Linked DNA regions of Homo sapiens: region 2 is linked to region 1. The links come from fine-mapping of genetic effects on gene expression. A gene starts in region 1. The other region holds a variant in brackets. All regions are shown on one strand. Distances are from middle to middle. Region 1 holds the start of ENO3 (enolase 3). Region 2 has its middle 8.5 kb from the start of GP1BA.

Region 1 (11,192 bases):
AGCCACTGTCATTATCACTCTCATCCTCACAAAGCCCTCCCTAGGACTGCAGCCTCACTCTAGCATCCTCTGCAGACCATTTACTTCACAGCCAGCTTCCCCTTCATGGTGGTGGCAGGACCCCAGTCCCCACCCTGCTCCCCTCTCCTGGAGCTGGTTTCTTATTCCCTCTGAAACTCTTTATTTAGTTTTTTTGTTTGTTTTTGTTTTTTTTTGTTGTTGTTGCTTTGAGACAGGGTCTTGCTCTGCAGCCCAGGCTGGAGTGCAGTGGTACGAACATAGTGTACTGCAGCCTCAACCTCCTGGGCTCAAGCGATCCTCTCAACTCAGCCTCCCAGGTATCTGGGACTACAGGCGAGCGCCACCATGCCCGGCTCCATTGGCAACTCTGCAGCTTCATTTTACCATATAGCATCTGCTTCCCCTACCTCCTTTGGAAATGTGAACACCTCTGTTGTTCTAGAACCACCCAGCTTCCTCTGTGAGTCCCTCACCTCCTCTTTGTCCTAGCAGGTTACATATCTATTTGCCTCCCCTCCCCGCCCCCATCTCGCCACCTCCTGTTTTCCCCAGCTCAGCCCAGAAACCAGCATCCCCTAGCTCCCACAAAGAAGCACACAGCTGTCTTGGTTGGCACCAGTGTTTATTTCAGGAAGCAGGTCTGGAAGACCTGGGTCTGTCCAGTGGAGTCCTGGAGCCTCCAGCTTCTCACTTGGCCTTCGGGTTACGGAACTTGCGTCCAGCAAAGATTGCCTTGTCCCCAAGAGCCTCCTCGATCCTAGAATGCAGGCAAGGTTAGGGCTGCTGAACTTCCAACCTAACAGCCTCCAGCACCCCAATGCCCAGGCCCACTGTTCCCGCTGTACCTCATGAGTTGGTTGTATTTGGCCAGACGCTCCGAGCGGCAGGGGGCGCCAGTCTTGATCTGATGAGGGAAGAAGAATTTGGAGGGTTAGGTGAGGCTGGAAAGGAGGGGTTGGACCTGGCCCCAAGGGAGCATTAACCTCAAAGGCAGGAGGCCAGGGACCCCAAGAAAACTTGGTGAGACACTCAGTAGAGAGAAGCTACAAGTACCTGTCCTGTGCAGAGCCCCACCACAAGGTCAGCAATGAATGTGTCCTCAGTCTCCCCAGAGCGGTGGCTCACCATCACCCCCCAGCCATTAGACTGAGCCAGTTTGCACCTGAGTGGAGAGGACATTTGATGTGGCCTTCTAGAACCTCCTCAGTGGGAAAGCAGGGGTTGGGTGGGGCCTCTCCCTTCTGTTTTGGGTAGCAAGCACTCTGCAGGGAGGGCAGTGACTAAGTTCTTTGGGAAGTAGGAGAGGAAAAGACTTATCTTGATTTCGGGCTCTTGAGATGCTGCTGAGAACAGCGGAATCTGAGAGAGGAATGGTGTGGGCTGGGGGTGGGGGGTCATGACAGAGCCACAGGGGCAAAGCTCTTGGAGTCAGGCCAAGGATTAGTCAAACAAAGTCTTGAGATCAAGGTGTGGGTAAGTCAGGTGCCAGGGGAAAGGTAAGCTTGGAGTTGGTGGGTAAGACTGTAGCTGGAGTGGGCAGAGCTGGGGCAGAGGCAGGCTATGGTGAGCCTCAGGGTCAGGAGGCACTCACGCCTGGATCGATTCGGTCACCGAGCCGATCTGGTTGACCTTCAGCAGCAGACAGTTGCAGGCCTTCTTCTCAACGGCCTGGGCAATCCTCTTGGGGTTGGTGACTGTCAAGTCATCCCCCACAATCTGGATGTTCACCCCCGAGAGGAAGGAGGTCCAAGTGGCCCAGTCATCCTGGTCAAAGGGGTCTTCGATGGAGACCACTGGTGGGGTTTGGAGCAGAGACAGGGCAGAGACAGAGCAGAGACAGGGCAGAGACAGGGCAGAGACAGAGCAGAGACAGGGCAGAGACAGGGCAGAGACAGGGCAGAGACAGAGCAGAGACAGGGCAGAGACAAGGCAGAGACAGGGCAGAGACACGGCTAGAGGTCAGAAGGAGCCTCATGGAGGGGTGACAGGGCAGAAGAGCTTAAATGGGGATTTTAATGGGGCTAAGAATTGGAAGGATCCAAGTCGATGGCAAAGCAGGTCACTGAAATCAGTATATTAGGCAGCTGCACGGGATTCGGGCAGGAACACTGGGACACCCGAACGCCTCACCAGGATAGTTCTTGATAAAGCTCTTATACAGCTCTCCGAGCTTCTCCCCAGTGATGTGCCGTGCGGGATCATCAGGCGACTTGAAGTCAAGATCGTACTTCCCATTGCGATAGAACTCAGATGCTGCCACATCCATGCCGATCACCACCTTGTCTGGGTAACCAGCCGCCTGGATGGCCGTCTTCAGCAGCTCCAGGGCTGGGGGAGGACCAAGAAAGGACCTGAGACTCCAGTGCCCCTTGTCTGCAGCCTCCCCTGCCCATGTGGAGATCCAGGGGGTCTGCCCCCCAGGGTGCTCAGCACTGACCCTCATTGTTCTCCAGGATGTTGGGTGCGAAGCCACCTTCATCACCCACATTGGTGGCATCCTTCCCATACTTGGCCTTGATGACCCCCTTGAGGTGGTGGTAGACCTCGGCGCCAATGCGCATGGCTTCCTTGAAGGAGCTGGCTCCCACAGGCAGAATCATGAACTCCTGCATGGCCAGCTTGTTTCCAGCATGGGAGCCCCCGTTGATCACATTGAAGGCCTGAGATGGGGAGAGGGTGTCTGGACCTGGGCCGGGGCATGAGAGCTCAAGAAGGGACAGGGGCGGGGGGTGTTGGGGTGGAAACCTGGCTTCCCTACTTACTAGCTCAGTGGTCTAGGATGAGTAGTTTTGCTCAAGAGCCTCTTTCCTCATTTCTTTCTTTTTTTTTTTTTTTTTTTGAGACGGAGTCTCACTTTGTCACCAGGCTGGAGTGCAATGGCGCAACCTCCGCCTCCCGGGTTCAAGTGATTCTCCTGCCTTAGCCTCCCTAGTAGCTGGGACTATAGGTGGGTGCCACCATGCCTGGCTAATTTTTGTATTTTTAGTAGAGACGGGGTTTCACCATGTTGGTCAGGCTGGTCTCGAACTCCTGACCTTGTGATCTGCCCGCCTCGGCCTCCCGAAGTGCTGGGATTACAGGCGTGAGCCACTGTGCCCAGCCTCTCTTTCCTCATTTCTGTAAAATGGGGATAGCACCTACTTCCCTGTAGGATCTTTTGCTGAAAATTAGAGAAATTGAATGTAAAGTTCTTAGCATGTGCCTAGTATATAATAGCTAACACTTTTATATAGCACTTACTACATGCCACGCACTAAGTACTTTACATGTATTAGCCCATTTCATTCTCAAAACACCTCTATTCATTGGTATCGTTATTACCCCCCATTTTACAGATGGGGAAACTGAGACAGAGCAGTTAAAGAACTTGCCTAAAATCATACAACTAATAACAGGCAGAGCCAGGATTCAAACCCAGCAATCTATCTCTAGAGACCATGCTCTTATGCAATCCTCCTAGTAAGTAACAAGAAATGGTAACATTATTATTGAGATTAAATTCAAAGAGTTTCCATTCATCAAGAAGGCACTGGTTTAAGAAGGACTCAAGAAGATACAAAGAAATGCCAAGATCTTTGCCTCAAAGAAACTCTCAATATGATTTGGGTGTAGGGTGTGGGGTTGGAACGAGGCTGGAGTTATCGAGCCTAGGATTGGAATGGGAAGGAACTGGGTTATATGGCAGGGAAGGAAGCACATAGAGCCTTCAGGGAAGGTTTGGATTGTGGAAGAGAGGGAGGGGTGGGACCACAGCAGGAGAGATTCAATTTCAGGAAACTGCTTCTTAGGAGCTGGTCTGAAAGGTGGATTTTCCAGGGGGGCCAACCCTGGCTGGGCGGGGTTGGCTCTGTCCAGGCGAGATCTGGGAAGGGCGGGTAGCTGCACTCACTGGCACTGGGAGTATGAGGTCAGGGTTCCCAGCGAGATCTGCGATGTGGCGGTACAGGGGGACCCCCTTCTCAGCTGCTCCCGCCTTACACACGGCCAAGGACACGCCCAGGATGGCATTGGCCCCAAACTTGGCTGGAAGGAGGCAAGCGGGAAGAAAGGATGAGAGCTTCTGCAGGGTTTGGGGTGGCTACTCCAGGAAGACGCCAGAGCTCCAAACCACTGAGCATGAAGAATTGGTTAACAGATCTCTCCCCAACAGCCTGAGTAGCCCTGGGAACCCCCACCCCGGGGGAATGTGTCAGCTGCATGTCTGTGTCCACAGCCCGGCCCAGGCCTGGCAGAAGGCAGGCATAGGAAATGCCTGTGGAATGAACACAAATCCATCCAGCTGCGGTGTGACCCAAAATGGGGGACCCAGAAATAACCCATCAGGCCTCACCCCATGGCCTCTCGCCATCTCTCCCACACCTCATCCCTTCCCCACCGCTAGCCCTTCACTCACACTTATTCTCGGTCCCATCTAGCTCAATCATAAATTTGTCAACTTTTTCTTGATCCACAACGCTTAGTTTCTGGAAGGGTGAGTTTGAGAAGGGAGAGCAGAGGTCAGATTTCTCAGAAGTCAGGGCACATGCAGGGGAAGGATAAGGGAAAATGTTTCGGGAGAGGCCTGTCTGGGCTGAGGGAGCAGGGGCATGGGGAGGAGGCTGCAGCGAGCGGGCTTCCCCACTTGCCTTTTGCAGCAGAGCAGGGCCCAGAGTATTGTTGATGTTCTCCACAGCCTTCAGGACTCCTAGACAGGCCAGAGGATGAGTTTTGGAGCTCAATCAACTGGGCCCCTTTCTGTGGACCCCAGCTCCTCAAGAGCCTTGGGGGTTCCAGTCCTCTACCCATTGTGCACCCATGTCCTAAAGCCGCCCACACAGGCTCCTTCTGCGCTGGTGTCTCCTCACCTTTCCCCAGGTAGCGGCCTTTGTCTCCGTCTCTTAGTTCCAGAGCCTCATAGATACCCGTGGAAGCCCCACTGGGCACAGCTGCTCGGAATCGGCCTGGGACAGGAGGAATTGGAAGATCACAGGGATGGCTGGGCGCGGTGGCCCATGCCTGTAATCCCAGCACTTTGAGAGGCCTAGGCAGGTGGATCACTTGAGATCAGGAGTTCAAGACCAGCCTGGCTAACATGGCGAAACCGTCTCTGCTAAAAATACAAAAATTAGCTGAGGCCGGGCGCGGTGGCTCACGCCTGTAATCCCAGCACTTTGGGAGGCCAAGGCGGGCGGATCACGAGATCAGGAGATCGAGACAATCCTGGCTGACACCGTGAAACCCCATCTCTACTAAAAATACAAAAAATTAGCTGTAGTCCCAGCTACTCGGGAGGCTGAGGCAGGAGAATGGCGTGAACCCGGGAGGCGGAGCTTGCAGTGAGCCTAGATCGCGCCACTGCACTCCAGCCTGGGCGACAGAGTGAGACTCCATCTCAAAAAAAAAAAAAAAAAATTAGCTGGGCGTGATGGCACAGGCCTGTAATCCCAGCTACTTGGGAGGCTGAGGCACAAGAATCACTTAAACCCGGGAGGCAGAGGTTGCAGTGAGCTGAGATTGCACCACTGCACTCCAGCCCGGGCCACAGAGCGAGACTCCATCTCAAAACAAAACAAAACAAAAAAAAGGACCTCACAGGGAGTCTCTCTACCTCTCAAAGGGCTGAGGTGTCCTCTCTGAGCTCAGGGACAGGAGGCAGTGCAGAGAGAGACTCCTGCTTCTCCTAGCTTCCAGCTCTGGTTCCACGTTGGAAGAAGGGGGCTTGGGAAGAAGTCTGGGAAAGGGAACCCGAGAGAAAGGAGAGGATATGGCACAGAACTGGGGGGCAAAGGCCAAAGGGTTGGGGTCTTCGGAGGCGAGCCTATCCAATGGGCCTTGTGTTACCCTTGGCCGTGTGCAGGTCCACCTCCACCGTGGGGTTGCCCCTGGAGTCCAAGATTTCCCGGGCAAAGATTTTCTGCATGGCCATGGCTGCAGGACAGGAGGTGTGAGTGAGTGTAGACAGTTGATCTCTTAAGGAACCAGAAATCCCTTGCCCTTTAAGATTCTTCCCCACTCCAAGAAGGCAGGTGCTGGAGCTAAAAATACCCTACAAAAAGGTCACAGACCAAAGAGGCAGGCGCAGCCCCCTCCCCCACTCAGAACAGCTCTTATTCCACCCTCCCATCCTAAGAATCCAGGGGCCTCTTATCTATAGCTCCTGGGATGCCACCGCTCACCAAGCCCCCACCTCCCCCAAGCCTCCACTTAGGCCTTCTCCTTCCACCCCTCTGGTCAAGCAGTCTGTTCTCCATGGCTGGTGGCCTTCAAATCCTTTCTGGTTCTCATTTTCCTGCTCCGAAATCTCCTTGGGCCCCCAATTCCCTATCAGGTTCCAGCTCTAGCTGCCCTTTTCTATCCATCCCTGCTGCCCTCCTCACAGCCTCCTTTCCCTAGATCCTTCGGTGTTCCCAGAGTTTGTCCCATCTGCTTGCTCCAGCCGCCCCTTCCCCCAGCTTTTTCAAGCATCTCCAGTCCCAGGAGGAAAAAAAGCAGAAATGTCCCCCACTTCCTCCAAGCCAATACCATGCTCACCCTTTACTACCTCCACCCCCAGGGCTGGAAGATTCACCCGACCTGGGATGTCTTCGCTGGAGGTTTGGATGGAGCTCCGAGTCTAGGTGGCAGCTGGGACAGTGTCAGCTCACCCCCTCTCAGGCTGCGCATTTATCCCTGAGCCACTCGGTCCCCAGCCAGCCCCGCCTCTCTTTCTCTCCATCCTCCCCCCTTCACACTGGGCTGGCAGCCAAGTGCCCACTACAGCCTGAAGCAGAAGCCTCTGGCCCTGGGCACCTGCCCCCTTACCAAAGGTCAACTACTATCCCCCACTTTCTGTCTCCCAATAACAGTCCCTGTTCTAATTCCACCCTTTGGGAGGAGCAAGGGAGGGGCTACAGATGAGGGGTCTCCCCCCACCCCAGGATTACATTCCCCTTTTGCAAACGTCAAGAGGAATGAGTGACCTTTAGGAAAGGCCAGGGGTAACCTGAGCCCTGCAAGGCTGGGGAGGGGGCCTGGAAGAGGGGCTGCAAGATTGACGTCCACACATGCTCAGATCGCTGGGCGGGCCTCTGTCCTCAGTGGGGGAAAGGACGGGACCCCCCACCCCAGAAGGCGAGAGGGTCTCACCTCTTAGGGTCCTCATAACGGCCATTCTCGGCGCCGCCCCATCCTACCCTCTCCAGGCCAGCCAGCGCCGGGATGAGTTAGGGGACAGGAAACGAATTTAGACAGGCCCTTTCGGCTGGCAAGGCGCCCGACTGATAACGCTGGGACAGCACTTGTCGCCCGGCGTGGGGACTGTCGGTCAGAGCCCCTTTCCCCATCGACTGTGGGCGCTCAGCGCACGGCCCCAGCCCATCAATGAATGGGGCTGAATCAACAGTGAACAAAAATGAATGGACCGAGGACGGGTGGCCTTTTGTGAGCTTCTGCACGCCTGGGGCTCTTCCGGCGCCCCACTTGTAGCACTGCGGGGAGGTAGGTCTCTGCCCTCGGTAGAGATCTCCACTTTGCCGGCTCTGGGGCCAGTGCGGGGTCTGCCCCGAGCTCCTCTGCAGCCATACCAGCCGACCGGCGGGGGACACACGGCGCCTCGGCCCGACTCGGAGGCCCTTCCCGTCGGCGCCGGGGCAGCGCGCGCCCGGTGACTCACCCCCGCCGCCCTCTCCCCACCCCTGCTCCCCGCCCCGCCGGCCCGCGCGGCCTCCCAGCCCCCACCCCAGGCCACCTGCCCCGCCACCCGTCCAGTCTCCCCTCTCGCCCCGCCCCCTCATCTCAGGCCGCTCCTCCCGGGATTTTTCCACCCTGGGGTAGGGGTGCGGTGGGCCAGGGGTCAGGAGATGGCGGGCGGGGAGCGCCGCCACGTGCCCGGGTGCGGCCCCGCCCGAGCCCGCCAGTGACTCAGCCGCGCGGCTGTCGAGGAACACGGACTCGAGGGGCGTCGGGGACTGTGGGATTCGGCGTGGACGCCAGGGATGCGCGCCGCGCTCGGGAGGAGAGAGAAAACCAACCCCCTTTCCGCCCGGGCCGCGCTCGGTGACCCCTTGCCCCTAGCCCAGGCTCCGGAAGCCGCCCAGCCCTCGGCGGCGGGTCGGAGGAGGCGGTTTCACCGCGGCCGCCGCACGGCCGTCCCGCCCGTCCCGCCCTCCCCAGGTGGCTGTGAGCGCACATCTGACTGCGAAGAAACCCAAAGGGCCCGAAGTGGGACTTTCCCCTTCTTGAAAAAGTTGCCACTCTTGCAACTTGAGTATTCTTCCGCCTCGAAAAATAGCCCCGCCTGTTAAGCCCCGCGGGTGTCCGCGCTCTGTGACCTCTGCAGACACAGGCCAAGGGGCACGGCCGGTGATCCAGACATTGCCTGCCTGGGGCGGGCGGGGCTGGGATGTGGGGTGAGGCCCTGGGCTAGAGCCGATCCAGAGAAGGGACAATCCTCTAGACTGAGAATGGGCCCTGGTGAACCCAACCTGCACGACCCGAGAAGACGCTGGGGACAGAAGTGGCCCCGGTGGGTGCCTTCAGCTATGAGAGCGACTAGAGGATTTGGCCAAACTCTTCTTTGCTTTCTTATTACTTGAATAAGTAAAATCAAGGGTGGTGAGGCGGCAGCGCGCACGGCTTCGCCCCCGCCCCTTCCGCCAGGCGGGAGACACGTCCCCAGCCCGCCTTCCTTTCCCGCAGGGTCCACACGGGTCGGGCCGGGCGCGCTCCCGTGCAGCCGGCTCCGGCCCCGACCGCCCCATGCACTCCCGGCCCCGGCGCAGGCGCAGGCGCGGGCACACGCGCCGCCGCCCGCCGGTCCTTCCCTTCGGCGGAGGTGGGGGAAGGAGGAGTCATCCCGTTTAACCCTGGGCTCCCCGAACTCTCCTTAATTTGCTAAATTTGCAGCTTGCTAATTCCTCCTGCTTTCTCCTTCCTTCCTTCTTCTGGCTCACTCCCTGCCCCGATACCAAAGTCTGGTTTATATTCAGTGCAAATTGGAGCAAACCCTACCCTTCACCTCTCTCCCGCCACCCCCCATCCTTCTGCATTGCTTTCCATCGAACTCTGCAAATTTTGCAATAGGGGGAGGGATTTTTAAAATTGCATTTGCAAAGTTCGGTGTCTGGGCTGGCGAGTGGGGGAGGGAGGGAATGGGGAGTAGGCCCCGCCCCTACCGTCCTTTGCAAATAAAAATCTAGCGGGGCGGGGGGGGGGAGGAGCAGGAAGTGGCGGTGCGAGGGCTGCTGCACAGCGAGCGGAGCCGCGGTCCGGACGGCAGCGCGTGCCCCGAGCTCTCCGCCTCCCCCCGCCCGCCAGCCGAGGCAGCTCGAGCCCAGTCCGCGGCCCCAGCAGCAGCGCCGAGAGCAGCCCCAGTAGCAGCGCCATGGCCGGGTGGAACGCCTACATCGACAACCTCATGGCGGACGGGACCTGTCAGGACGCGGCCATCGTGGGCTACAAGGACTCGCCCTCCGTCTGGGCCGCCGTCCCCGGGAAAACGTTCGTCAACATCACGGTACTGCGAGGCCTGCGCGGTCCGGGGCACTGCTCCGGTTTGGACCCTGAGGGAGGGACTTGGGTGGGGGCGGGCGCGGTCTAGGGCGCGCAGCGAGAGGCCCTGACTGGGTGCTTGCCCTGGAAGCGGCGCGAATGGCGGCTGCACGTGAGTGGGTCCCTCAGTTGCCCGTAGGTCCTATGCCCCAGGCGGCGGCGCCCATCCCGCCCGCTACCCCGCTTTCCGCGACGGGGCGTTACATCCGGGGCACAGGGCGGGGAGGGGCGCGGCGCCCGGTGCGGCGGCCCACTTCCGCCTCTCCCAGGGCGGGGCGGGGACGCGCCTCAGTTTTTACTGGGGATTGGGATTGAGAGGGGACCCGGGGATCCTTGGACCCCCAGCTCCCCGTCCGGCTGCCAGCCCGCGTCCCTCTACCATTGTTTCTCCTGGTGCGGAAGGGAGCCCCAGGCGCGTGGTCTTGGTCCCTTGCCCACCCTCTGTGGGCTTCTGGCCCCTCCTAACTCCGTTAGAGAGGGCGAGGCCACCACACGCCCCCCCAGCTCAGCACGTTGGATTCAACATTCCTGCGAGGCCAATCCCGGAAGTCCCCTCGCCCTCCCTTCCCGCCATCCGGCGGGGCCTGGAGCAGGGGAACTTTGTGAGAAGTTCTGAGACAGCATAAGCGAAAGTATATTGGTTTACTACCGCTGCTCCCACCACCATCTCCCTGTCCACACTGCCCGGAAGTGGGGAGGGGGAGCGGAAGTTCAAAAGGGGGGGGAAGGGGGTTTCCGGGCGGGAGGGGACCGGATGTGGGGGCTTGGGGTGAAAGGGGGAGGGGGGAAAGGTTCCCGGGGTACCTAGACCCGAGAGCTGGCCTGCCGGGTCTGGCCCCTGTCCACCTTCAAAAGTTTTCCAACTTTCCCGGAAAGCCCCCAGGGGTCTGCTTCCTCATCTCAGAGCAGAGATACCTGGAGCTAAACTCTAGGTTACTTGGAGACCCAGGCGTCCGGGCCCTAACAGCTCCTGCAGAACCTTTGACCAAATAAGGGCAAAGTTGCTTCTCTTGCCTCGCCCGCCCCCCTCCCTTCCCCTCTCCGCTTCTGCTTTTCCTGAAGGAGAGTTCTGAGCATCCAAAGGCTCCTCACTTACCTCACTGACTCCCTTTATTTCCTGGGTTTACTTTCCCCATTAACACTGACATCTAAATCTCTAGAGGAGTATGTCATCCCTTCCTCCCTGGTTCCATATTCTAAGTTTCAGAATCATGATCTTTTTCTGCACTAACGTCCCACAGTCCTCAGAGTTTCTCACAGTTCATTGATGTGTACTGAGTATATAATTTATACTTAGCCCCCACGGCGGGGTGGTTCTCAGAAGTGGAAGACAGGTGGGTCTTTGGAGAACACGGTGGGAATCTTGGTGCACTGACTAACTTGATGGGCGCTTGGTTCCTCTTCCAGCCAGCTGAGGTGGGTGTCCTGGTTGGCAAAGACCGGTCAAGTTTTTACGTGAATGGGCTGACACTTGGGGGCCAGAAATGTTCGGTGATCCGGGACTCACTGCTGCAGGATGGGGAATTTAGCATGGATCTTCGTACCAAGAGCACCGGTGGGGCCCCCACCTTCAATGTCACTGTCACCAAGACTGACAAGAGTGAGTTCCTGAGTCTTACCCTTCCTTTAGCTCCAAGATCTCTAATGTACCGCCTTCTGGTAAT
Region 2 (16,574 bases), 28 kb after region 1:
AATCCCAGAACTTTGGGAGGCTGAGGCGGGCGGATCACCTGAAGTCAGGAGTTCGAGACCAGCCTGACCAACACGGGGAAACCCTGTCTCTACTAAAAATACATTAGCCAGGCGTGGTGGCGCATGCCTGTAATCCCAGCTACTCGGGAGGCTGAGGCAGGAGAATCGCTTGAAACCGGGAGGTGGAAAGAGGTTGCGGTGAGCCGAGATCGTGCCATTGTACTCCAGCCTGGGTGACAAGAGCAAAACTCCATCTTAAAAACAAAAAAACCTCTCCAGATGCCCGCTTCTCTTCCTCTTCACAGCTGCATTCTGAGAGTTGCCTACTTTTAATTCTCTCCCACCTTTCTCTCTGCCTTCTCACCCCAGTCTATGCTGATTTCTTTCCCCTGCTACTCCATTGACTCGGTTCTTACCAAGGTCTTTAATGCTCTCCCTCCTCTACATCCATGGGAAACTTCTCCACTGTGATCTTACTTTATTTCGGCAGCCTGCATACCCATGGCCACTCGCCCCTTGGGATTCTCCTTTTGGCCTCTGTGACACATGACCCTGTAATTTTCTTGGTTTTCTTCTTACCTGTTTGGTTGGGCCTTCTCAGTCTCCTTCATAGATTCCCCTTCTTGAACAATTAAACTGCCCCCAGAGTTTGTGCTTAGGCTGTCTTCATTCCCAGCTAATTTTTATATTTTTAGTAGAGACGGGGTTTCACCATGTTGGTCAGCCTGGTCTCGAACTCCTCATCTCAAGTGATCCACCCACATTGGCTTCCCGAAGTGCTGGGATTAGAGGCATGAGCCACCGCGCCCGGCATTCTCTTCTTTTCTTACGCTATGCAACCACCTGAGATTATCCTCATCCATTCCCTTGCCTTCAACCACCACCTACAACCTAATGACTCTCAAATCTATGTCTCTAGTCCAGACCCTTCTCCTGAGACACAAGCACATATGTCCAGCTGCCTTCTGGACATCTCTACTTGGATGTCCCACAGACACCAAAACAATATGTTCAAAGCTGAACTCACCATCTCTCTCCAAATGGCTTCTCCTCCTGTGTTGCTCAGCCTGGTGAGTGGCACCATCATCCACTCATTTACCTAACCATTCAGTCAACACAAACAAAATCCCTAATAGTCATCTCTAACGTCTCCCGTCTTTCATCCCCATCACCAAGTCCTGGTGATTTTATCTCCCGTCTCTCTCAAATCTACTCTCCATCCACACCATCCTGCCAGCATTCCTAGTCCAAGGTTGTTGTTGTTTCTTGTTCATATCCTCCTCCTCCTCTTCTTCTTCCTCCTCTTCCTCCTTTCTTCTTCTTCTTCTTTTTTTTTTTTTTTTTTTTTGAGATGGAGTCTTGCCCTGTCTCCCAGGCTGGAGTGCAATGGCTCCATCTCGGCTCACTGCCACCTCTGCCTCCTGGGTTCAAGCAATTCTCCTGCCTCAGCCTCCTGAGTAGCTGGGATTACAGGCACCCGCCATCATGCCCGGCTAATTTTTCATATCTTTAGTAGAGACGGGGTTTTACCATGTTGTCCAGGCTGGTCTCCTTTGCTCTGTCTCCCAGGCTGGAGTGCAGTGGCGCAATCATGCCTCACTCAAGGACAAACTCCTGGACCCAAGGGATCCTCCTGCTTCAGCCTCCCAAGGAGTTGGGACTACAGGCATGCACCACCACACCTGGCTGATTTAAAAATTTTTTTCTAGAGACAGAAAAACATTTGTTTGTTGCCTAGGCTGGTCTCAAACTCCTGGGCTCAAGCGATCCTCCCACCTCGGCCTCCCAAAGTGCTAGGAGTACAGGCGTGAGCCACCATGCCCTGCCCAGGGCACCATCTTCTCGCTACTGCTTCCCTGCAACAGCCTCCTTGCTGGTCTCCCAACTTCCCAATTCCCTTTCTTCTCTTTATTCTCCACTGGAGTGGTCTTTCAGAACTGCACATTTGCTCATATCCTTCCACTGCTTGAAATCCACCAATGGGCCAGGCACAGTGGCTCACACCTGTAATCCTAGCAGTTTGGGAGGCCGAGGCGGGTGGATCACCTGAGGTCAGGGGTTTGAGACCAGCCTGGCCAACATGGTGAAAACCCATCTCTACTAAATATACAAAAAATTAGCCAGACGTGGTGGCCGGCACCTGTAATCCCAGCTACTAGGGAGGCTGAGGCAGGAGAACAGCTTGAGCCCCAGGGGGCATAGGTTGCAGTGAGCTGAGATCACACCCCCTCACTCCAGCCTGGGCGAAAGAGCGAAATTCTGTCTCTAAATAAATAAATAAATTCACCAATGGCTCCTCATAGATCTCAGGAGAAAGTCTAAAGTTCCCAACATGGCCTGCAGGGTCCTGCAAGGTCTCCCCTTTGCCTGCCTGTCCAGCCCCATCTGTTCCCACTCTGCCCTTACTCTTGATCATTCTCTCCTGTGCCTGAACTTTTTCTTCAACCCTTATCCCCTTCTGCCTAACTTTTACTTATTTGGCAAGTTCCAGCTCAGAATTCCTTCCTCTGGAAAGCCTTTTCTGACTTCCGAAGACCAGGTTAAATGTCTATTACAGAAAGTCAGACACCATGCCCTGCCTGTTGGTCCACTGCCCCTTCTGTGATGAGAATGTGGCCCTGCACTGTTCCCCAGTAGGAGCTCCATGCAGCCGCCTGAGCCTGCCCCTATCTGCTTCCAGCTGGTGACCGGACAAGGGATAGACACTTAAGCCAGATGCAGTTAATCCATAGATTTGCCATTTATATAATTTGCCCGCTGCAAAGGTATTGGAAAATGTGGGGAAGACGAGGTAGTATAGAAAGTGAGGTGGGAGTTTGTCTGGAGAGAAGCCATGAAATTGAATAAGGACCCCGAGCCCAGAGGCTGTTGATTTTTTTTTTTCTTTTTGACCCTCACCCAGGCTGGAGCGCGGCGGCGCCATCTCCGCTCACTGCAACCTGCTCATGCGATCCTCCCGCCTCAGCCTCCCGAGCAGCTGGGATCACAGGTGCACACCACCACGCCGGGCTAATTTTCGTATTTTTAGTAGAGAGGGCATTTCACCATGTTGGCCAGGATGGTCTTGATCTCTTTTTTCGCTCTTGTTGCCCAGGCTGGAGTTCAATGGAGTGATCTCGGCTCATGGCGACCTCCGCCTCCTGGGTTCATGTGATTCTCCTGCCTCAGCCTCCCAAGTAGCTGGGATTACAGGCATACACCACCACGCCCAACTAATTTTGTATTTTTAGTGGAGACTGGATTTCTCCATGTTGATCAGGCTGGTCTTGATCTTCCGACCTCAGGTGATCAGCCTGCTTCGACCTCCCAAAGTGCTGGGATTACCGGCATGAGCCACTGCGTCCAGCCTGCTCATATTTTATTTAGGACTTTTGCCTCTAAGTTAGAAAATAGGAGTGGCTTATAGATCTCTTTTGGGGATCTTTGTCTGTTTTTCTGTTTGTTTGGTTTTATGATCAGAGTTTATGCTAGCCTTGTAAAATAAATTGGAAAACTATATTCTCTGGAACAGTTATAGATAGGGATTTTCTGTTCTACATAGATTGGTGGAGTTCACCTATAAACCCATCTGGAGGCTGGGCACGGTGGCTCACGCCTGTAATCCCAGCACTTTGGGAGGCTGAGGCGGGCGGATCATGAGGTCAGGAGATCGAGACCATCCTGGCTAACACGGTGAAACCCCATCTCTACTAAAAAATACCAAAAAAATTAGCTGGGCGTGGTGGCGGGCGCCTGTAGTCCCAGCTACTTGGGAGGCTGAGGCAGGAGAATGGCATGAACCCAGGAGGCAGAGCTTGCAGTGAGCCGAGATCGTGCCACTGCACTCCAGCCTGGGCGACAGAGCAAGACTCCGTCTCAAAAAAAAAAAAAAAAAACCATCTGGATGTGGTGCCACTTCGGAGATAGGTTTTTGTGTTTTTTTGTGTGCTTGGTTTGGTGTGATTTGAGACAGGGTCTCACTTTGTCACCCAGGTGGAATACAGTGGTGCCATCATGGCTCACTGCAGCCTCAACCTCCCAGGCTCAAGCGATCTTCCCACCTCAGTCTCCTGAGTAGCTGGGACCTCAGGCATGTGCCACTATGCCCAGCTATTGTTTTAAATTTTTTGTAGAGACAGGGTCTCACTATGTTACCCAGGCTGGTCTTGAACTTCTGGGCTCAAGCAGTCCTCCTCTCTCCACCTCCCAGCCACTCAAAAGGCTGAGGTAGGAGGACTGTTTGAGCCCGGGAGGTCGAGGCTGCAGAAAGCCATGATTGCAGCACTGCACTCCGGCCTGGGTGACAGGGTGAGACCCTGTCTCAAAATAAAATAAATAAATAAATAAGTTCCTTCCCTAATATTCTTCCTGTTATTGAAGCCACCTTTGCAAAATTATGACTGAGACAGTGAAAGAGATCTAACCTAAGCAACTCCATCTTGCTTCTAAGCTTTAAGCTGTGCTTGTTCCTTCCTGAGCATAGGCTGAACTAACTTTGAGAGGAACTTAGTTTATTGTTTATAGTTACAGGCGTGAGCCATCACACCCGGCCTAGAGTTTATAGTTTAAAACAAAGACGGTAATAGCCCTTTCCCAAAACAAACCTACTTCTTGCCTGAGAACTAGACTGCCTTTGTAGTACTAACAAACTAGCCAAGAGATTACCAATTATGGTTTAGGAGTCCGGGCGCAGTGGCTCACGCCTGTAATCCCAGCACTTTGGGAGGCCGAGGTGGGCAGGTCACCTGAGGTCAGGAGTTTGAGACCAGCCTGACCAACGTGGTGAAACCCCATCTCCACTAAAGATACAAAAATTAGCCGGGTGTGGTGGCTCCCACCTGTAATCCCAGCTGCTCCGGAGGCTGAGGCAGGAAAATGGCGTGAACCCGGGAGGCGGAGGTTTCAGTGAGCCGAGACCGCGCCACTGCACTCCAGCCTGGCCGACCGAGCAAGACTGTCTCAAAAAAAAAAAAAAAAAAAAAGAAAGAAATTACGGTTTAGGAGTCATGCAGCTGGAGGCTACAGGATTCTGACCCTCCCTGGACTGCCCGTAAGATCAGTGCTTGAGACGTTTTGCCGACCCTGCACTTGATGGATCAGCTGGCGCCACCCAGATCAATAAACTGGCTCATCTGATCTTGTGGCCCCCACCCAGGAACTGACTCAGCACAAGAGGACAGCTTCAGCTTCCCATATTTTCATCTCTGACCTGATCAATCAGCACTCCCGGCTCACTGGCTTTCCCCCACCCACCAAGTTGTTCTTAAAAATTCCAATCCCTGAATGCTCAGGGAGACTGATTTGAGTAACAGTAAAACTCTGGCCTCCCACACAGTCGGCTCTGTGTGAATTCCTCTTTCTCTATCGCAATTCCCCCATCATGATAAATCGGCTCTGTCTAGGCAGCGGGCAAGGTGAACCCATTGGACGGTTGCCTTATTACCTGAGCCTAGCCCAGGGGTGTGACCTAATCACGGACAAGTGTACTCCTCCTAGGATTTCACGTGGTGAATAAGGTGGTACGAGGATGCAGAACTGGTCTTCATTCATTTCAGCAAAGTGTTCAGGAAAAGCTGTAGGGAAGTTCCTGCTACTAAGGTCCCCAAAGTTAGCTGATTCCTGAGCTATCCTGTGTTGTCAGTGTTCTCTTGCGTCCAGTGAGCTCCTGTATCTCTTTCCAAAAAAATTTCTGTTGGATTAGGTTAGCTAGAGTAGATTTCTATTACATGCATTTGAAGAAACCTAATCCAGTTCTTGTTTTTGTTGTTGTTGAGACAGTCTCACTCTGTCGCCCAGGCTGGAGTGCAGTGGCACAATCTCGGCTCACTGAAACCTCCTGCTCACTGCAACCTCTGCCTCCCGGGTTCAAGCGATTATCCTGCTTTAGCCTCCCGAGTAGCTGGGATTACAGGCACACGCCACCACGCCCAGCTAATTTTTGTATTTTTGTAGAGACGGGGTTTCACCATGTTGGCCAGGCTGGTCTTGAACTCCTGACCTCAGGTGATCTGCCCACCTTGGCCTCCCAAAGTGCTGGGATGACAGGTGGGAGCCACCGCACCTGGCCCCTAATCCAGTTCTCTAGTGTAGTTCATTTATTTTTCCTTCCTTCCTTTCTTTTTCTTTCTTTCGCTCTCTCTTTTTTTTTTTTTTTTTTTTTTTTTTTTTGAGATAGGGTCTCATCCTGTTACCCAGAGCCCAGACGGGAGTGCAGTGGAGTGGCATGATTGTGGCTCACTGCAACCTCCACCTCCCAGGCTCAAGCGATTCTCCCACCTTGGCCTGCCTAGTAGCTGGGACTGCAGGCATGTGCCACCACGTCTGGTTAATTTTTGTTTTTGTTTTTTTGTAGAGATGGAATTTGCCATGTTGCACAGGCTGGTCTTGAACTCCTGGACTCAAGTGATCCACCTGCCTCAGCCTCCCAAAGTGCTGGGATTACAGGCCTGAGCCTATGCGCCCACCCTAGTATAGTTCATTTCTAAAGAATTTGTAGCCGGGTGCGGTGGCTCACGCCTGTAATCCCAGCACTTTGGGAGGCCGAGGCGGGTGGATCATGAGGTCAGGAGATCGAGACCATCCTGGCTAACAAGGTGAAACCCCGTCTCTACTAAAAATACAAAAAATTAGCCGGGCGCGGTGGCGGGCGCCTGTAGTCCCAGCTACTCGGGAGGCTGAGGCAGGAGAATGGCGTGAACCCGGGAAGCGGAGCTTGCAGTGAGCCGAGATTGCGCCACTGCAGTCCGCAGTCCCGCCTGGGCGACAGAGCGAGACTCCGTCTCAAAAAAAAAAAAAAAAAAAAAAAAAAAAAAAGAATTTGTATAGAAGATGCCGGGCGTGGTGGCTCATGCCTGTAATCCCAGCACTTTGGGAGGCCGAGGTGGGTGGATCACGAGGTCAAGAGATTGAGAGCATCCTGGCCAACATGGTGAAACCTATCTCTACTAAAAATACAAAAAATTAGCCAGGAGTGGTGGCGGGCGCCTGTAGTCCCAGCTACTCAGGAGGCTGAGGCAGGAGAATCACTTGGACCCGGGAGGCGGAGGTTGCAGTGAGCCAAGATTGCACCATTGCACTCCAGCCTGGTGACACAATGAGACTCCATCTTAAGACAAAAAAAAAAAAAGAATTTGTACAGAAGACATTAGTTGGAGATGTATCCAAAATCCATTCAACTTTTACTCTTTTTTCTTTTGAGAAACTATTCCTACCTCATCCCTAGAATTTTTGGTGACATTGACTCTCAGCTGCGAGAGTGGATCTAAGCCACTTAATAGACTGCCTCCTCTCTGACACAGTTTAAGGACCCAACAAGTACCCTGACATAAGCTGATTAGGGTGTTCATGGTCATAGTGATTGGCCCAGGGATAGAAATAGGAAGTAAGTTGGTCCTTTCATGATGAAACCCAAGACTCTTGTTTGATGGTTAAGGTATACAAACCTTCTCTGAAAGTGGATGAGGAAATGTGTAACTCCAGGTGAGCTGTCAGCTGTTGGCATTATTCTGTGATTATGATGTGATCTGGCCTTCGGATGAAGCTATCATCAGAAAAGGTATGTGTTCATCAACAGTTGACTGGATAAAGAAAATGTGAGGTCAGATGTGGTGGCTCCAGCTTGTAATCCCAGCACTTTGGGAGGCCAGGGCCAGGGTGGGAGGATCATTTGAGCCCAGGTGCTGGAGGCTGCAGTGAGCTATGATCATGCCACTGCACTCCAGCCTGGGTGACAGAGCGAAACCCTGTCTCTAAAAATTAATTAATTAGGCCAGGCACGGTGGCTTGCGCCTGTAATCCCAGCACTTTGGGAGGCCGAGGCGGGCAGATCACTTGAGGTCAGGAGTTTGAGACCAGCCTGGCCAACATAGTTAAACCCTGTCTCTACTAAAAATACAAAAATTAGCTGGGCGTGGTGGCAGGCGCCTGTAATCCCAGCTACT[CGGGAGGCTGAGG/G]CAGGAGAGTCATTTGAACCCAGGAGGTGGAGGTTGCAGTGAGCTGAGATTGTGCCACTACACTGCAGCCCGGGTGACAGAGTGAGACTCCATCTCAAAAAAAAAAAAAAGTAATTAATTAAAGAAAATGTGATACACACACAAACACACACCATGAAATGCTATGCAGCCACTAAAAATAATGAAATCATGTCCTTTGCAGCAGCATGAATGGAGCTGGAGGCCATTATCCTAAGTGAACTAACTCAGAAACAGAAAACCAAACACTACATGTTCTCACCTATAAGTGGGAACTAAACAATGGTTACACATGGACATAAAGATGGAAATAATAGACATTAGGGGCTTTGAAAGAGGGGAGCTTGGGAGGGAAATGAGCATTGGACAATTACCTAATGGGGCCAGGCACGGTGGCTCACGCCTGTAATCCCAGGAGGCCGAAGCGGATGGATCACCTGAGGTCAGGAGTTCGAGACCAGCGGGGCCAACATGGCGAAACCCCGTCTCTACTAAAAATACAAAAATTAGCCAGGCTTGGTGGTGGGCACCTGTAATCCCAGCTACTCGGGAGGCTGAGGAAGGAGAATCGCTTGAACCCAGGAGGCAGAGGTTCTGGTGAGCCGAAATCGGGCCACTACATTCCAGATTGGGCGATAGAGCAAGATTCCGTCTCAAAAAAAAAAAAAAAAAAAATTACCTAATGGGTCCAGTGTTGACTGTTTGGGTGATGGGTACACTAGAAGCCCAGTCCTCACCAGGATGCAATATATTCATCTAACAAATATGTACATGTACCCCCTGAACCAAAACTAAAATAAACATTTCAGAAAAGAGCTTGGGGATGGTGGCTCATGCTTGTAATCCCTGCACTTTGGGAGGCCAAAGCTCGAAGATTGCTTAAATTTAGGAGTTTGAGACTGGCCTGGGTAACACAGTGAGGCCTCATCTCTACCAAAAACAAAAACGAAAACATTAGCTGGACTTGGTGGTGTACTTTTTTTTTTTTTTTTTTTTTTGAGACGGAGTCTTGCTCTGTCGCCCAGGCTGGAGTGCAATGGCGCGATCTTGGCTCACTGCAAGCTCCACCTCCTGGGTTCACGCCATTCTCCTGCCTCAGCCTCCCGAGTAGCTGGGACTACAGGCGCCCGCCACCACGCCCAGCTAATTTTTTTGTTTTGTTTTTAGTAGAGATGGGGTTTCACCATATTAGCCAGGATGGTCTCGATTTCCTGACCTCGTGATCTGCCCACCTCGGCCTCCCAAAGTGCTGGGATTACAGGCGTGAGCCACCGCACCCAGCCTGGTGGTGTACTCTTGTAGTCTCAGCTACTGAGGCAGGAGGATCGCTTTAGCCCAGGAGGCCAGGGCTGCAGTGAAACATGATCATGTCACTGCACTCCAGTCTGGACGACAGAGCCAGACCCTGTCTCCCTGTCTCAAAAAAAAAAAAAAAAAAAATTAGTCGGACATGGTGGCAGGCACCTGTAATCCCATCTACTCCAGAGGCTGAGGCAGGAGAATTGCTTGAACCAGGGAGGTGGAGGGTGCAGTTAGCCGAGATCATGCCATTGCACCCCAGCCTTGGTGGCAAAAGTGAAACTCTGTCTCAAAAAAAAAAAAAAAAGAAAAGAAAGAAAAAAATTATTTATTTTTTTGAGGAGAATTCAGGGAAGAAATGAGTTGGGTTTGTTTGTTTTGTTTTTCTATTTTATTTATTTATTTTTTGAGACAGAGTCTCACTCTGTCGCTTAGACTGGAGTGCAATGGCACAATCTCGGCTCACTGCAACCTCCGCCTCCCGGGTTGAAGCAATTTTCCTGCCTCAGCCTCCTGAGTAGCTGGGATTACAGACATGCGCCACCACACCCGGCTAATTTTGTATTTTTAGTAGAGACGGGGTTTCTCCATGTTGGTCAGGCTGGTCTCGAACTCCCGACTTCAGGTGATCCGCCTGCCTCGGCCTCCCAAAGTGCTGGGATTACAGGAGTGAGCCACTGCACCGGCCCTGAATTTTTAGTAGAGACAGGGTTTCACCGGGTAGGCCAGGCTGGTCTTTGAACTCCTGACCTCAAATGATCCACCCGCCTCGGCTTCCCAAAGTGCTGGGATTACAAGTGTGAGCCACCACACCTGGCTCCGTGTAGTTTTTTTTTTTTTTTTTTTTTTTTGAGACAGAGTCTTGCTTTCTCACCCAGGTTGGAATGCAGTGGTGTGATCACAGCTCACTGCAGCCTCCGCCTCCTGGGCTCAAGTGATCCAAACACCTCAGCCTCCCAAGTAGCTGGGACTACAGGTGTGCACCACTACACCTGGGTAATTTTTGTATTTTTGGTAGAGATTGGGTTTCCTCATGTTGGCCAGGCTAGTCTTGAACTCCTGACCTCAAGTGATCCGCCTGCCTCCCCAAGTGCTGGGATTACAGGCGTGAGCCACTGCGACTGGCCTAGACTAGTGTTTGACCAAACAACTGACTACTACTATTAGTCTGGCCAAGTTGACACATAAAATTATCCATCACATCATACCTTGGATGTTTATTGTAAACTGCAATACATTTTAAAGTTTACAATAGGCCAGGTATGGTGGGAGGACGGCTTGAGCCCAGGAATCCCAGACCAGCCTGGGCAACAGAGCAAGATCCCACCTCTAAAAAAAAAAAAGAAAGAAAAAAAGTTTATATTAAAAAAAAATCCATCTGAGAGACTTCTGCTTATGGGAAGATGGAGTACACTTTCTTTTACCTATTCCACCTGCTAAATACAACAAAACCCTGGATATTATACATAAAACACAAAAGCTAAACACGGTGGCAGGTTCCTGTAATCTCAGCTATTCAGGAGGCTGAGGCAGGAGAATCGATTGAACCTGGGAGGTAGAGGTTGCAGTGAGCTGAGATTGCACCACTGTTCTCCAGCCAGGGCAACAGAGCAAGAGTCTGTCTCAAAAAACAGAAAAGAAAAGAAAACAAAAATGAAAAATGAAAAAACAACCCACTATTCTAGATGTTGCTGTGAAGGTATTTTCAGATGTGATTAACCTTTAAATCAGTATGCTTGGAGTAAAGCAGATTATCTTTCATAATGTGGGTGGGCCTCATCCAACCAGTTGAATGGCTTAGGAGGAAAGGCTGAGGTTCCCTTGAGAAGGAAGGAATTCTGCCTCCAGACTGACTACCTCTGGACCCAGGATTACGTAAACTGTTCCCTTGGTCTCTAGCTTGCTGACTCCCTAGTCAAGGTTTTGGACTTGCTAGCGCACATAATCATGAATCATGTCAGCCAATTCCTTAAAATAAATATTTGTCGTGTGTTTGTGTGTGTTTGTGTGTGTATGTATACATCCTATTGGTTGTATTGGGTCTCACTCTGTTGCCCAGGGTGGAGTGTAGTGGCGTGATCATGGTTCACTGCAACCTCCTGGGCTCAAGCCATCCTCCTGCCTCAGCCACCCGGGTAGCTGGGACTACAGGCGCGTGCTACCATGTCTGGTTATGGTTCTGTTTTTGTAGAGTGCCCTGACTAGTACCCATGATTTTCACTTTCTGGAATTTTTTTTTTTTTGAGACAGGATCTGTCTCTGTCACCCAGGCTAGAGTGCAGTGGTGCAATCACGGCTCACTACAACCTCCGCCTACCAGGCTTGAGCAATCCTCCCACCTCAGCCTGCCCAGTAGCTGGGACTGCAGGCACATACCACCACACCAAGCTGATTTTTGTATTTTTAGTGGAAATGGGGTTTCGCCATATTGCCCAGGCTGGTCTGGAACACTCTTGCCTTGGCCTCTCAAAATGCTGGGATTACATTAGCGAGCCACCAAGCCCGGCCTCTGGAATTTGTTATTCTCTTTATGTTCTATGTGCATTTTAAAATAATATGTATTCCCTGTTGAGATAATATATACTCTCAAATCCTGTATACTTTTTCTTATTTTTTGTGTACTTGATCTGTCCATTTCTGGGCGAGGTATGTTAAAATCAAGCACCCCAATTGTGGATTGTTCACTTTATTCTTTATTTCCATACAATTTTACTTTATTTTAAAGCTATGTTTTTAGATAGACAAATGCCTATGACTATTAGCTAGTCAACTTGCTGGCTGCTGTAACATATTACCACAAATCGAGTGGCTTGCGAAAATAAAATGTATCCTCTCACAGTTCTGGAGGCCAGAAGTCTGAAATCGAGGTGTCCCCATGGCCACACTTCCCCCGGAGGCTCTAGGAGAGAATGCTCCCCTGCCTTTTCCAGTGTCTGGCAGCTGCCAGCATTCCAACGCTTTCCTTGCTTTTGGAGCTTTATCATTCTAATCTCTGCTAGTGTCTTTATATCACTTTCGCTTCTGTGTGTCTGTGTCTTCTCCTCTCCTGTCTCTTATAAGGACACTTGTCATTGATTTTCGGGCCCTCTTGGATAATCTAGAATCATCTCCTTATCTCAGGTCCTTAATTCATTTACATCTCAAAGTTCCTTTTTCCAAATAAGGTAACATTCACAGATGTCAGGGATTAGGATATGGATGTATCTTTTGAGGGGGGCCATCATTCAGCCCGCTACAACCATGATAGCTTCTTGGTATATTATACCTTTTATAAAGATGAAATATCCCCCTTGGTCCCTTTTAATGCTTTCTGTTTTGAATTCTTTTGTTTGGCATTAATATTGCTATATTTGTTTTCTTTATATTAGTATTTTTATGCCATAATTTATTCTCTTATTTTCCAGATTTTTTTTTTTTTTTTTTTTTTTGAGACGGAGTTTCACTCTTGTTACCCAGGCTGGAGTGCAATGGCACGATCTCGGCTCACCACAACCTCTGCCTCCCGGGGTTCAGGTGATTCTCCTGCTTCAGCCTCCTGAGTAGCTGGGATTACAGGTGCCCGGCTAATTTTTTGGTATTTTTAGTAGAGATGGGGTTTCACCATGATGGCCAGGATGGTCGCGAATTCCTAACCTCAGGTGATCCACCTGCCTGGGCCTCCCAAAGTGCTGGGATTACAGGCATGAGCCACCATGCCTGGAATTTTCCAGCTTTTTACCAACTTGTTTTTGTTGTCTCTTGCAAACAGCATGTAGCAGAATTATTTTATTTATTTATTTATTTATTTATTTATTTATTTTTGAGACAGAGTCTCGCTCTTTGCCCAGGCTGGTGTGCAGTGGTGCAATCTCAGCTCACTGCAACCTCCTCCTCCCAGGTTCAAGCGATTCTCCTGCCTCAGCCTCCCGAGTAGCTGGGACTACAGGTGTGTGCCACCATGCCTGGGTAATTTTTGTATTTTTAGTAGAGATAGGGTTTCACCATGTTGGCCAAGCTGCCCCTGAACTCCTGACCTCAGGTGATCCACCCTCCTCGGCCTCTTAAAGTGCTGGGATTACAAGTGTAAGCCACCATGCCCAGCTAGCAATCATTGATTTTTAACATAACATTTAAATGTAACTTTCTATCAAAATCTAGAATTAATAACTATTGATTGCCCCCAAAACAAGACAAGGTTCTTAGAATGTGTTTCGTTTTCTATCCCTACCCCTTCATCTTTCATGAGATATCACCGAGAATTTAAATTATAGATTACTACTTCCATTGTATTTTATGTATTTGTTTACTTATTTATTTATTTTTTGAGACAGGGTCTCGTTCTGTCACCCAGGCTGGAGTGCAGTGGTGCGATCATAGTTCACTGCAACCTCTAACTCCTGGGATCAAGCAATCCTCCCAACTCAGCTTCCTAAGTATCTGGGACTAGAGGTGCCCACCACCACATCCAGCTAATTTAAAAATTTTTAGGCCAGGCAGGGTGGCTTACGCCTGTAATCCCAGCACATTGGGAGGCTAAAGCAGGCAGATCACGGGAGGTCAGGAGTTCGAGACCAGCGTGACAAACATGGTGAAACCCCATCTCTACTAAAAATACAAAAATTAGCCAGGTGTGGTGGCAGGCGCCTGTAATCCCAGCTACTGGGGAGGCTGAGGCAGGAGAATCGCTTGAACCCAGAAGGCGGAGGTTGCAGTGAGCCGAGATCGTGCCATTGCACTCTAGCCTGGGTGACAAGAGCGAGACTCCATCTCAGAAAAAAAAAAAATTTTAGTAGAGATGAGGTCTCACTAGGTTATCCAGGCAGATCTTAAACTCCTGGGCTTGATTCTCCCACAACTGCTTCCATTTTAAAACATCAGTTAGAGCTTTCTTAGACTTACCAATGCATTAGCTGCTTTCCTTGCTTACTGTTGCTTTGTGAGTCTCATGTCTTCTGGGATTCTGGGATGACATCTGTCACTCCTTTCAGCTGCTCAGCACCCGAAGGCCTTTTCCTATGCTCCAGACCTCCCACATCATGAGCAAGACCCTGCCTCTCACTAGCAAATGGGAAAGCACCAGACCCTTGGTTCCTTTGCAGCCAGACCCCAGGCATCTCTCTGGGGCTTCTCCAGGCAGGCTTTCCTGTTTGCCTGAAGGGCCACACCAAATCTGAACAGGGCACCAGGAGGCAATTCCACTTGGTCTCTACCTGCAGGATGGGCCTACTTCTAAGAGCAGCAACCATTTAATACGATATTTTTTTCCCCAGTGTCCTAAACACTTTTGAGTTAACATTAGTTGCCTAGGCTGGAGTGCAATGGTGTGATCTTGGCTCGCTGCAACCTCAGCTTCTTGGGTTCAAGCGATTCTCCTGTCTCAGCCTCCCCAGTAACTGGCGCGCCCAACCATGCCCAGCTAATTTTTTTGTGTTTTACTAGAGACGGGGTTTCACTACGTTGGCGAGGCTGGTCTCAAACTCCTAACCTCAAGTGATCCACCCACCTCAGCTTCTAGAAATGCTGGGATTACAGGTGTGAGCCACTGCACCCGGCCAGACATTATATTTCTAAGACATATTCATATTGATGTACCCACAGCTATAATTCATTCATTCGCAATGCTTTATTGTATTTAATGAGTAAAAGGCAGTTTTCCTTTCTGCTGTTTATGATCATTTGCCTTGTTTCCACTTTTTTCCCCCATTATAAATAATAGCCAGGCTCAGTGGCTCATAGATGTAATCCCAGCACTTTGGGGGCTGAGACAGGATTGCTTGACTGCAGAGGCTTGAGACCAGCCTGGGCAACATAGTAAGACCTCATCTCTGCTAAAAATGAAAACAAAAATAAATCAGCCAGGTATGGTAGCAGGTGCCTGTGGTCCCACCTACTCGGGAGGCTGAGGTGGGAGGATCACTTGAGCCCGGGAGGCGGAGGTTGCAGTGAGCTGAGATTGCACCACTGCAGTCCAGTCTGGGTGACAGAGCAAGACAACTGCCTCAAAATAAATAAATAATAAAATAAAATAAAATAATGAATTAATAAATTAAAATAAGAAACTGGGGGGCGATGTGAGTCCCAGACATTAGCATTTTTGCTAAGATTTTATTTTTATATAATTTAAAACTTACAGAAAAAAATACCAGAATAGTACAAAGAACTGCATGCCCTCTTCCCAGATTCACCATGTGTTAACATTTTGTCTCATTTGCTTGATCATATTGTCTTTCTCCCTCTTGAGTGTTTTTTTCTGGAACCATTTGAGAACAAGCTGAAGACATTATGTTTCTTTACCACTAAATATTTCAGTATGTGTTTCCTAAAACAAAGACATTTCCTTATATACTACAGTGCAGTTATTAATTTTAGGAAATATAACATTGATACAATACTCACATCCAATCTACAGTCCATAATCCCATTTAGCCAATTGTCCTAAAATGTCCTTGACGGTTGTTGTTTTTTGCTTTTTTTCTTTCCTGTCCAGAATCCAATCCAGGGCCATATCACTTTAATTTGCTTTAGTTCCTTAACCTGTCTTTATTTTTCATAAATTTGACATTTTTGAAAATTATAGTCCAGTAATTATGTAGAGTTTCCCTCAATTTGTCAGATGTTTCCACAAGGTTGTATTTGGGTTATGTTTTTCTGGCAGGAATATTACACCAGCGATCTTTCTTGGTGGGTCCTATCAGGAAACACATTATATCAATTTCACCCTTAATGGGGATGTTAACTTTGATCCTTTGGTTAAGGTGGCATCCGCCATGTTTCTCCACTGTGGAGATTCTGTTTTTTTACTTTGTAACTAAGGAGCACTTTCGTGGAGAGATACTTTGATACTATGTAAATATCTTGTTCCTTCTCAATCTCTGGCCTATATCCTGCAGCATCCACTGATAATTTTTTTTTTTTTTGAGACAGAGTTTCACTCTTGTTGCCTAGGCTGGAGTGCAATGGCGTGATCGTTGATCGTGGCTCACCACAACCTCTGCCTCCCTGGTCCCGGTTCAAGCAGTTCTCCTGCCTCAGCCTACTGAGTAGCTGGAATTACAGGCACGCGCCACCACATCCAGCTAATTTTTGTATTTTTAGTAGAGACGGGGTTTCACCATGTTGGCCAGGCTGGTCTCGAACTCCTGACCTCGTGATCCGCCTGCCTCGGCCTCCCAAAGTGCTGGGATTACAGATGTGAGCCGCCGTGCCTGGCTATCCACTGATAATTCTTGCTGGAATTAATTCCTGTCATGATGACAGAAAAACTTTCCTTTAAAAAAAAAGTGATTTAGCTGACTCTGAGCACATTGTCTATGGGTTAGCTCTGTTCTCCGAGAAGCAACAACAACA

Evidence for each region. PIP is the estimated chance that this variant, and not a neighbour inherited with it, causes the effect.
Region 2: its variant is fine-mapped to the expression of ENO3 in whole blood (TOPMed, PIP 0.93).

The regions. Positions count from the first base shown.
Region 1 is chr17:4,946,564-4,957,755 of GRCh38, reverse strand. ENO3 (enolase 3) reads right to left here and starts at 6,637. Exons shown (of 12, transcript NM_053013.4): 1 at 6,574-6,637; 2 at 5,842-5,928; 3 at 4,866-4,961; 4 at 4,647-4,705; 5 at 4,415-4,484; 6 at 3,911-4,044; 7 at 2,459-2,681; 8 at 2,152-2,349; 9 at 1,613-1,814; 10 at 1,075-1,183; 11 at 867-925; 12 at 627-778. The coding sequence starts at 5,926. The coding sequence ends at 709. PFN1 (profilin 1) reads left to right here and starts at 9,226. Exons shown (of 3, transcript NM_005022.4): 1 at 9,226-9,493; 2 at 10,936-11,128. The coding sequence starts at 9,362. RefSeq lists enhancers at 5,371-6,105, 8,267-8,436 and silencers at 7,487-7,716, 7,767-8,176, 8,637-8,886, 9,017-9,356, 9,627-9,696 and 1 more.
Region 2 is chr17:4,915,458-4,932,031 of GRCh38, reverse strand. No RefSeq gene overlaps it. Among named protein-coding and RNA genes, the nearest start is that of GP1BA, 8.5 kb to the left of the region's middle. The variant CGGGAGGCTGAGG/G (reference allele first, on the strand shown) is at 7,920.